2 separate regions of the Homo sapiens genome follow, and region 2 is linked to region 1. The links come from fine-mapping of genetic effects on gene expression. A gene starts in region 1. The other region holds a variant in brackets. All regions are shown on one strand. Distances are between the middles of the regions. Region 1 holds the start of ASCC3 (activating signal cointegrator 1 complex subunit 3). Region 2 overlaps ASCC3 (activating signal cointegrator 1 complex subunit 3).

Evidence for each region. PIP is the estimated chance that this variant, and not a neighbour inherited with it, causes the effect. A credible set is the group of variants that fine-mapping cannot tell apart.
Region 2: its variant is the best candidate, but not a certain one, in a credible set for the expression of ASCC3 in esophagus mucosa (GTEx, PIP 0.82).

The regions. Positions count from the first base shown.
Region 1 is chr6:100,879,208-100,883,437 of GRCh38, reverse strand. It overlaps ASCC3 (activating signal cointegrator 1 complex subunit 3), which reads left to right and starts at 2,109. Exons shown (of 42, transcript NM_006828.4): 1 at 2,109-2,377. It overlaps LOC107984041 (a long non-coding RNA gene), which reads right to left and starts at 1,981. Exons shown (of 8, transcript XR_007059692.1): 1 at 1,784-1,981. RefSeq lists an enhancer at 2,146-2,265.
Region 2 is chr6:100,849,975-100,854,204 of GRCh38, reverse strand. The region is part of intron 3 of ASCC3 (activating signal cointegrator 1 complex subunit 3); the gene reads left to right. Among named protein-coding and RNA genes, the nearest start is that of ASCC3, 29 kb to the left of the region's middle. The variant C/T (reference allele first, on the strand shown) is at 2,115.

The DNA.
Region 1 (4,230 bases):
CATCCCTCAGTGTCCACAGGGGATTGGTTCCAGGACACTCCCACATACCAAAACCCCAGGATGCTCAAGTCCTTACACACAATGGTATAGTATTTGCATACAAACTATGCACATTGTCCCATATACCTTAAACCATCTCTAGGTTACTTATAATACCTAATACAATGGGAAATGCTATGTAAACAGTTGTTACATCCATATTGTTAAGGAAATAATGACAAGAAAAAAAGAGTCTGTGCGTGTTCAATGCAGACATTACCATTCTTTTTTTTTTTTTTTTTCAATTGTTTTTGTTCCAAAGTTGGTTGACACATATACAGAAGCCATGGATACAGAGGGCTAACTGAATTTCCTTCCAGGCCAGGACTATGTAATACAAATATGATGCAAGCCACCTATGTAATTAAAAATTTTCTAGAAGTCACATAAAAAGTAAAAATAAAGTTGAAATTAATTTTAACATATTTTATTTGATCCATTATATATTATTTCAACATGTAATCGACATAAGAATTACAATATTTTACATTTGTTTTCTAAGTCTTTGAAATCTGGTGTACATTTTGGACTCATTGCATGTCTCAGTTTGGACAAGCCACATTTCAAATGTCAAGAGACGTATTTAACTGGTGGCTACCCCAATGGATAGGGCAGTTCTAGGTAGTCTATTTTCAGTTCCTCTCTTCTCCCTTAAGCCTCTGGAACTGTGATGGGAATAATCTGTCATGTGAATTCCTAGCACTTATCAGCACCTCTCATTATCACTTGGCCTCCTTGCATTATTTATTTTTGTGATGCATTTGTCTTGTCTCATGAACTAACTTGTAAACTCTATGAAGTCCAGGACCAAAGACACATGTAATCTCAAGACTGGAAATATCTTTAACAAAACCATCAACTAATTATTCTGTTGATGTGTGGCTCCCCTGTACCAAGTCCCTATTAAGTGAGCTTCAGAATCTCCTTGAAGCAAAATTCTGTGGTTGAGGTATTCACACATGCTAAGGTAGGCAATTCTTTGGGTCGTGCTACAAGGGCATCTTCTTTTCAGGATCTTAAATCTGTTCCCTGAAGTTTGCATCACATGAAACAAATCAACTTCACATGATAGGTCATTTCATATTTGGAGAGAGTCCAGTAGTTTTCTCTCTTCTAGGTGAGTCCTGGAAGGTTTAATCAATCCTTCTTCACTTGCCCTGTTTTTGAGTTCTCGTCATCATTTTGCTCTTCCCTGATATAATGCCAGCTTGATTAAAGTCTTCAAATGCTGAACACAGCACTTCAGAGGTGGTCTGACCAGTAAAGACAATAACTGGATCACTATTGGCTGCCTCTACAAAACAGTTCTACCAGGCATCGGGGCACATTACCTTGAGGAAGCGGGAATGGCAGAAGAGAGCCACAACAAACATATTAACTCATACTATCTTTGCATTGTTGGCTTTTAGTCTAGAACTCTTTGCAGATAAACCACACAATTCTTTAGGTTAGTTTTTCTTCGTATCTTCCTATCTTTTCAATCGAGTTAGGGAATCTTTGGGCTTTCTGTTTTTGGAGGAGGTCTTCTGACCGAAGAGCCGACTTGCAGAGATCACTTTGAGGGAACTAAGCTGAGAATCCAGAAAGCTTATGGAAAACAGGCCTTGACACCAGAGAACCATGTATACTCTCTAGCAGCCAGAGGGCTTTGGCTGAAAACGACGATAGCAACTACCTGTTTCTTCATTCAAATTGCTCTCCTTTCCTTTACCTTTAATAGGAATTATTTCCTCCACATATTTACCTTACAGAGAAGGGCGGGGAGAAGACGCGGCAGACTGAAGTAAATGCAGGGAAAAAACTCACAGGTAGAGAGGTAGAGACGGCAGGCCTGGCCCGTTGCGGGCAGCCAGGGTAAAGTGGAGCGTCCCGCTCCCGCCCTGGGGCGCATCCTCGCCGCCGCCGGGACCTTCCGCCTCTGCTCCTCCGAACCCAGCGGACTAGAGGCTGGAGGCGGGAGGCGGAGCGGCGCGCGCACGCGGGCGGGGCAGAGGGCCCGGAGTCGACGAGTCGACGTGCCGACGTTGGCGCTGCAGCGGGGCGGTGACGTGTAGGCCGGCGCCAGCTCCACTCTGTCCCTCCTCGCCGGGTCTGTGCGTCTTTGCGTCTGTCTGTCTGACTGATGGTCCTCACACGCGGTTCCCTGTGACTGGGCGCGACCCCGGCAAGCGCGGCTTGGAGGGCGGACGGGGCGCGGCGATACAGCTGCCCGCTCGCATCTTTGGCCCTGCGCTCAGCTCCTCACCCGGCGTGGGAAGTTAAAGTAAAACCGAAAGGGAAGAAGGCGCGGTGGCAGGAGCTGACAGAGTGATGGGAAACGCGTGAGCCAGGCCGAGAGGTGAGGAGGTGGAGGTGGAGGTGGGAGGACGAGAAGGGTCGCCGCGGCCAGGGGAGCTGGCTGGAGGCGGGGACGGCGAGGCGGGCTACGCGACCCGCCAGAGATTCTCTTCCTGCCTCCGGGGCAAGTCCCGACCTGTCATCCTTTTCAGTGGCATGAGGTCGAGTCCGGGGTCTCGCAACAATACCGCCCATTCCTAGAGTTTGTAGGTGGGGTTGGGGATAGAAAACTTAACCTAAGCTACATATTGTCCAAGTGTTAAGCCACAACGTGACCAGATGAGGTTTTTCTGTCCCATGCATGGGTAATTTGTTTTCTTTTTTTCTGTTACAAAGCCTTGATAACTTCGTTTTCTTCACGTAGATTTGGGGAAAGAAATCTTCCTCATATTTTTCCCCCAACACACTGGAAAGTAAATAGGTAGCTGACCGTGATGGATTGTGGGTGAATTTCGCAATCAAGGAGCCTATAATGTCATTTTGAAATAAATAAATGTGTATGTGGGTGCTAGGGAGGTTTTGTGAGTACTGGGCAGTCATTTCAAATAGGTTTCTTATAAATTAACTTACTCATGGAATGCAGTGTGCTAATGGTATTTGCTATTCTTTGGTTTAAAAGAAGCATAATTCTAGGGGCTGGTAAAAGTTTGATGTGTTGTCACTTGTGCATTCAAACTCATGGTTACATTTTCTTTCTTTCCCTAGGTTAGGTGAGATTGACAGCCATTTTCTCCATCACCAGATTTTATGTTTCATAGATTGAAATCCTTTTTCTGATTCTCAAAGTTCTCAAATGTTGAGAATTAAGCTTTTGGTTTTACTATGGATTGTGCTCCAGTTTATGTTGTCTCTTTTTTTTAATGATGGTTATAATAGTCTTGCATGAGAAAAATGATCCTTAAAGATGCTCTTAAGCTTAGGCTAAATAATCCTATTTATATGAGAAATTAATTTTTCATGGTTCAGCTTTCTTGATCCCTGCTTAACAGTTTTTTGTCATTCATTCATTCAAGTCTTCCTATGTGTCAAACGCTGGGCTAGGCCTAGGAGAGCAAGAGAGAGACAGTCTCTGTGCTCATGAACTTTCTATAATCCAGCAGCCTCCTTTTAAGACAGAATCTTGACTAGGGTTCTTTCTCATGCCATGGATCTGTAGTTAACCAAAACAAAGCTTTTAAAAGAAAAAGTTATTGTCAATGTATATATGTAATTGGCATTGAAAGGGGAACAGATGATCTTGCTTTAACAGCATGATTTGATATTGCCTTTGATCAAAAAGTAGTATATGTACCAGTGGTTTGCCATTTCAGAAGAGTAAGTTTTTCTTTTTCAAAGCTTGTTTAAATATAAAGTTCACAGTTCTACCTCAGTTTCTACCTCAAAAAAAATAAATAAATAAAAAGCTTTTTCTTTTGAGGTAGAAATCAGTTTCTTTCCAGTCTTCACTTTGGTCTGATTGATCTCCTGTGTATCTCTGGAACCCCTAGGCTCAAGCAGTCCTCCTGCATCGGCCTCCCAAAGTGCTGGGATTACGGGCCCCATTTTGCCTTTTTGTATGCTAATGAATTGACTAAGAATTTTGTCTTAGCTAGCTGGCTGCTCCTAGTAGCTTCAGGATGGGGGCTGGTTACCAGAAAGGTCAAGGAATTATTAGAAGGTTGGGACTTTCATCCCCACCCCCTAACTGCTTAGGGAGGTGAGAGAGGGGCTGAAGATTAAGTTGATCACCAGTGGCCAAAGGGTTTAATCAATTATGCCTATGTAGTGAAGCCTCCATAAAAACTCAAAATGACAGGGTTCATAAAGCTTCTGAAAGCTGAACATGTGGAGATTCCTTGAGGTGGTGTGCCCAGG
Region 2 (4,230 bases), 29 kb after region 1:
ATCATTTGAAAGATGGTTTAATACTCTCCCCCTCAAAAAAAAAAAAAAAAGTACCTGGCTTGTTCTTGTAGCATCAGTATGTTATGTAATCTGTTTGTATCTGAGTTTTTCTGTAAAATTGAGGAAAATATTAGCAAGATTCATGAGACTAGTTTAGATATTGTACTTGTTTAATAATTACACTAATGGGAAATGAACAGGAATATATAGAGGGAAAAATTATGGGGACATGGTATATTTTATATTCAAGTTGAATCATTTTTGTATTTTGTTAAATAATGTACTTTGTTGTATCTAATGTTGTAGGTAAGGTCCTGTATTTTACATATTTGTAAAAGAAAACATCATCATACTTGCCAGATTCAAAAAAATCAGCTAATCTCTGAGGATTTAACAGGTCAGGGAACTCATTTGTTGACAACTTCTAAATTGAATACTTATTGGCTGGGTACAGTGGCTCACGCCTGTAATCCCAGCCCTTTAGGAGGCCAAGATAGGTGGATCACCCGAACTCAGGAGTTTGAGACCAGCCTGGGCCACATTGTGAAATGACTCTACAAAAAAATTTAAAAATTAGCTAGGCATAGTGGCGTGTGCCTGTACTCCCAGCTACTCAGGAGGCTGAGACTGGAGAATCACTTGAGCCCAGGAGGCGAAGGTTGCAGGGAGCCCAGATTGTGCCACTGCACTCCAGTCTGGGTGACAGAGCAAGACTCCGTCTCAAAACTGCACTCCAACCTGGGTGACAGAGCAAGACTCCGTCTCAAAAAAAAAAAAAAAAAAAGGAATATTTATCAATTATGGATGCAAGTGATTGATATTTTAATTCAATCTTTAATTAAAATTTTCTACTCATCCTTTTTCCAGGATTCCTCAACTATTAAAGTAGGCTACAGAAAAAAGTGACAACTTACAACCACTTAATTCTTAATATTTTGAATCAAAAGAAAACAGACGTAGATTGTGTGTTGAGGATGATTGACAATTGTAACCATTTAACTCTTTGATTTTAAAAAATTATTTTATAATCTTATAGTAACAATCTACCAAATATATCATTTTATATGGTAAGGTTCTATATAAGGTTTTTTAAGTTTGAAAATTATTTATAATAAAAGCGCACCAGTCAGCCAGCCAAGTTGAGTTCTGATCATGCTCTGCTACTTAATGGTGATTTTTGGCAAGCCTCTTTCACTTTTGACTTTTTTTTTTTTAATTCTGGGAAGTGCCTTATAGTTTACTATGCATTTCACATCCCATTTCCTCTCAATATAACTGCAAAGTAGGGTGAGTATTTCTTCTTAATAAAAGTATTGTAGGGACCTTCTAAGTGCATCCTTTTAAATATATTACAGTTGAAGTGCCAGGTGGGTAGAGCCAGTTTTCCGGTTTACAGCTTATGTTATTCAGTGTTTTATGGATACAAAGTTAGATACCCAAGTATGTAGGTTTCTAGAGTACCTTCTTTAAAAGTTTGGAGTTCTTAAGTTTTATATCAAGTCTTATATAAACTTTTCGTCAGTTGATTAGTGTATCAATTTATCTGTGGCCAAATCTAAACTTAAAATCCTGATTCCTCTTTGAAAGGTGACCACAGTGAGTGATATGAAGCAGACAGAAAAAGCTTTAAGAATTGGGTGCAAATGTTAACTTAACCAAAGATCATAAACCTAATCGTTTTTATTATTAAATTACATATAGAATATAAAGGGAAGTGAACAAAAGGCTATTTCGGAACAGGATTCTCACAGTTAATGTAACATGTTCAATTTTGGATTTAGTGTCAGAAAACAAGAACATGACTAACACCTTTCTACTTTAGAAGTGTACCACACGCGTTGTCCAAAGCCGTTCCATCTCCCCCTTCTGATGTGGCCAATTGGGTGGTGGTTCAGCCGGCTAATAGAGGTTCGCTTAGTGTTTCCCTTCCAATTACATTTTTGTTGAGGGTAAGTTGGGCCTTGGATAGCTTTGGCTAATTAGACAACTGACTGCATCGTTTTCTTCAGATACTTTGTCTACATTTTACAAACTTTTCATACATTTTAGTCACCCAAAAAACACTGAGTGGGCTGTACCAGCAAGCTGTGGTGCATCCTTTGCGGCCCCAGCAC[C/T]TGGGGTCCTTCGTCTGCTCCAATCTGATCAGGGCTCTCATCTGGGCAGCGTGCTAACAGCCAGTCTCTTACGCCTACATACGTCATCTCATGCGGACAGTGTGCTGGAAAGCATGTCGGTGCCTCTTAGGGAAGACAAGCCGGGGTGGTTGCCCCTTAGGGAAGACAAGCCGGGGTGGTTGCAGGAAGATGGTGAAAGTGGAAGTTACCATCTGATGTTTTAGCGCCCTGAAAAAGTTCATTGTTTTCAGAATGCCGTAGTCATTATTTCTGTTGTGTAGTCATCCATGTTAACAAATAGTGTTGGCTGGTGGAACTCCCAGAACCGTAAGGCATATAGAGATTCTCTGTTGAAAAACTGTTCTGTGGTATGAACACGTGTCCATTTCACATAGGTTGTGCAGGAGAGTTAGTAATTAGGGTAGAGTATTAACATTTATGAAACACCACAACCCAGCAAGGTTTAAATTTTTTTAAGTATTTGTGATTTTTGAAATTATAGATTTAAGTTAATGGTTATTAAAAATTTGACACTCCAAAAAAGTTGATCTTTGTTGATGTTTCTGTGAGTCTACAATTATTTTCTCTTCAAACATGGGCTTATAGCTTTTTTACCCACTATTAATGGACTTTTTAAAGGCAAGATATATAAATCTGCTGCACTATATTTAGTGAATGTATATGGCTATATCAGAATTCAACCAGTAACCTAATAATGGATATTTAAGTTAATTACACTTTTACATTAGATAATAAGGCTGTTCTTCCACTATTTGATTTCTTAAGGTGACCTATTTATTTTTAAAATTTATTTTGTAAACAAGAATTAGAAATAAGTCTACTGTCTAGGAATTTACAGGGAATCAGTGTGACATAGGGGAAATAACTTGTTTAGGAGTTAGAAGACTAATGTTAATCTTGTTTAATGATGTAATAGCTGTTTGATCTTTCCCTAATTACTCAAATTCTGTTTCCATTTAACATCTATAAAATGGAGATACTTTTGTTAGGACAAAGTGAGATAATTATGTGAAAGTTTTTAGTAAATTATTATTTTTAAAAAAATCCCAAGATGCAAAGTGTTAGCAATACTATCTTTACAAAAAATGTGTATTTACAATGGTAGATAATGTTTGTAAATGTGAATTCCATTTTTGCTCAGACTTTAGTATCAGTTCTATCAACCCCTTTAAATTATCTGTAGAAGTACCATAATCCCCAAATTATCCAAATCCTGTTTTACAAGTTATAAGTAAAATGTATAGAATGAATAAATAAATGTATATAAATGCTATTGAATTAATTTAAAAGCACTATTTATAGATTTTCATATATTTTCTTAAATACTAAAAGAATAATTGTATGTCAGATAATTGTGTAAATTATAACAGTAAAAGTAGACTTCATACTTGAACAAATTGGAAATATACATTGTAAAATTGCTTATTTTCCTACCTATAAACTGTTAATCTTCTACACATGATTGAATAGCAGATAAAGTAAAAAGTGACTCAGGCAGTTTGATGTAGTATAAAAATACTAATCTGGTGTCAGTGAGGCCTGGGTCTAGTTTAAATCAACTAATCTTTGTGGAGCTACCTATTTGGGGCTAAGTACAGTGAGGAATACTACAGTGGTATTGTCATCAATACCATTGTATTTGTACAATGTACTCAACGTTGTACTCATCTTGAAAGAGGTAGTTGAGCTATATTCTGAAACATGGGTAGGATTTGAACAATCAGAGGCCTTGAAGAAGAATCAGTATGATATAGAAATAGGCATAGAGTGGGGTAGAACGTGGTTTTTGGTGAAGAAATTCTTTTTGGCTGGAGCAGGAAATATATAATAGCCAATAAGACTGGAAAATAAAATGCTGGGGTCAGCTTCTGGCAGTGTAGGAGCTTGGATCAAGCTATAGTAAGCTGTGGAAGATTTGTGAATAATGATACTGGAGTCATGTTTCCTTCTTTTTTTTTTTTTTTTTTTTTTGATAGAGTCTCAATTCTGTCACCCAGGCTGGAGTACAGCGATGCTATCTCTGCTCACTGCAACCTCCGCCTCCTAGGTTCAAGCGGTCCTCCTGCCTCAGCCTCTCGAGTAGCTGGGATTACAG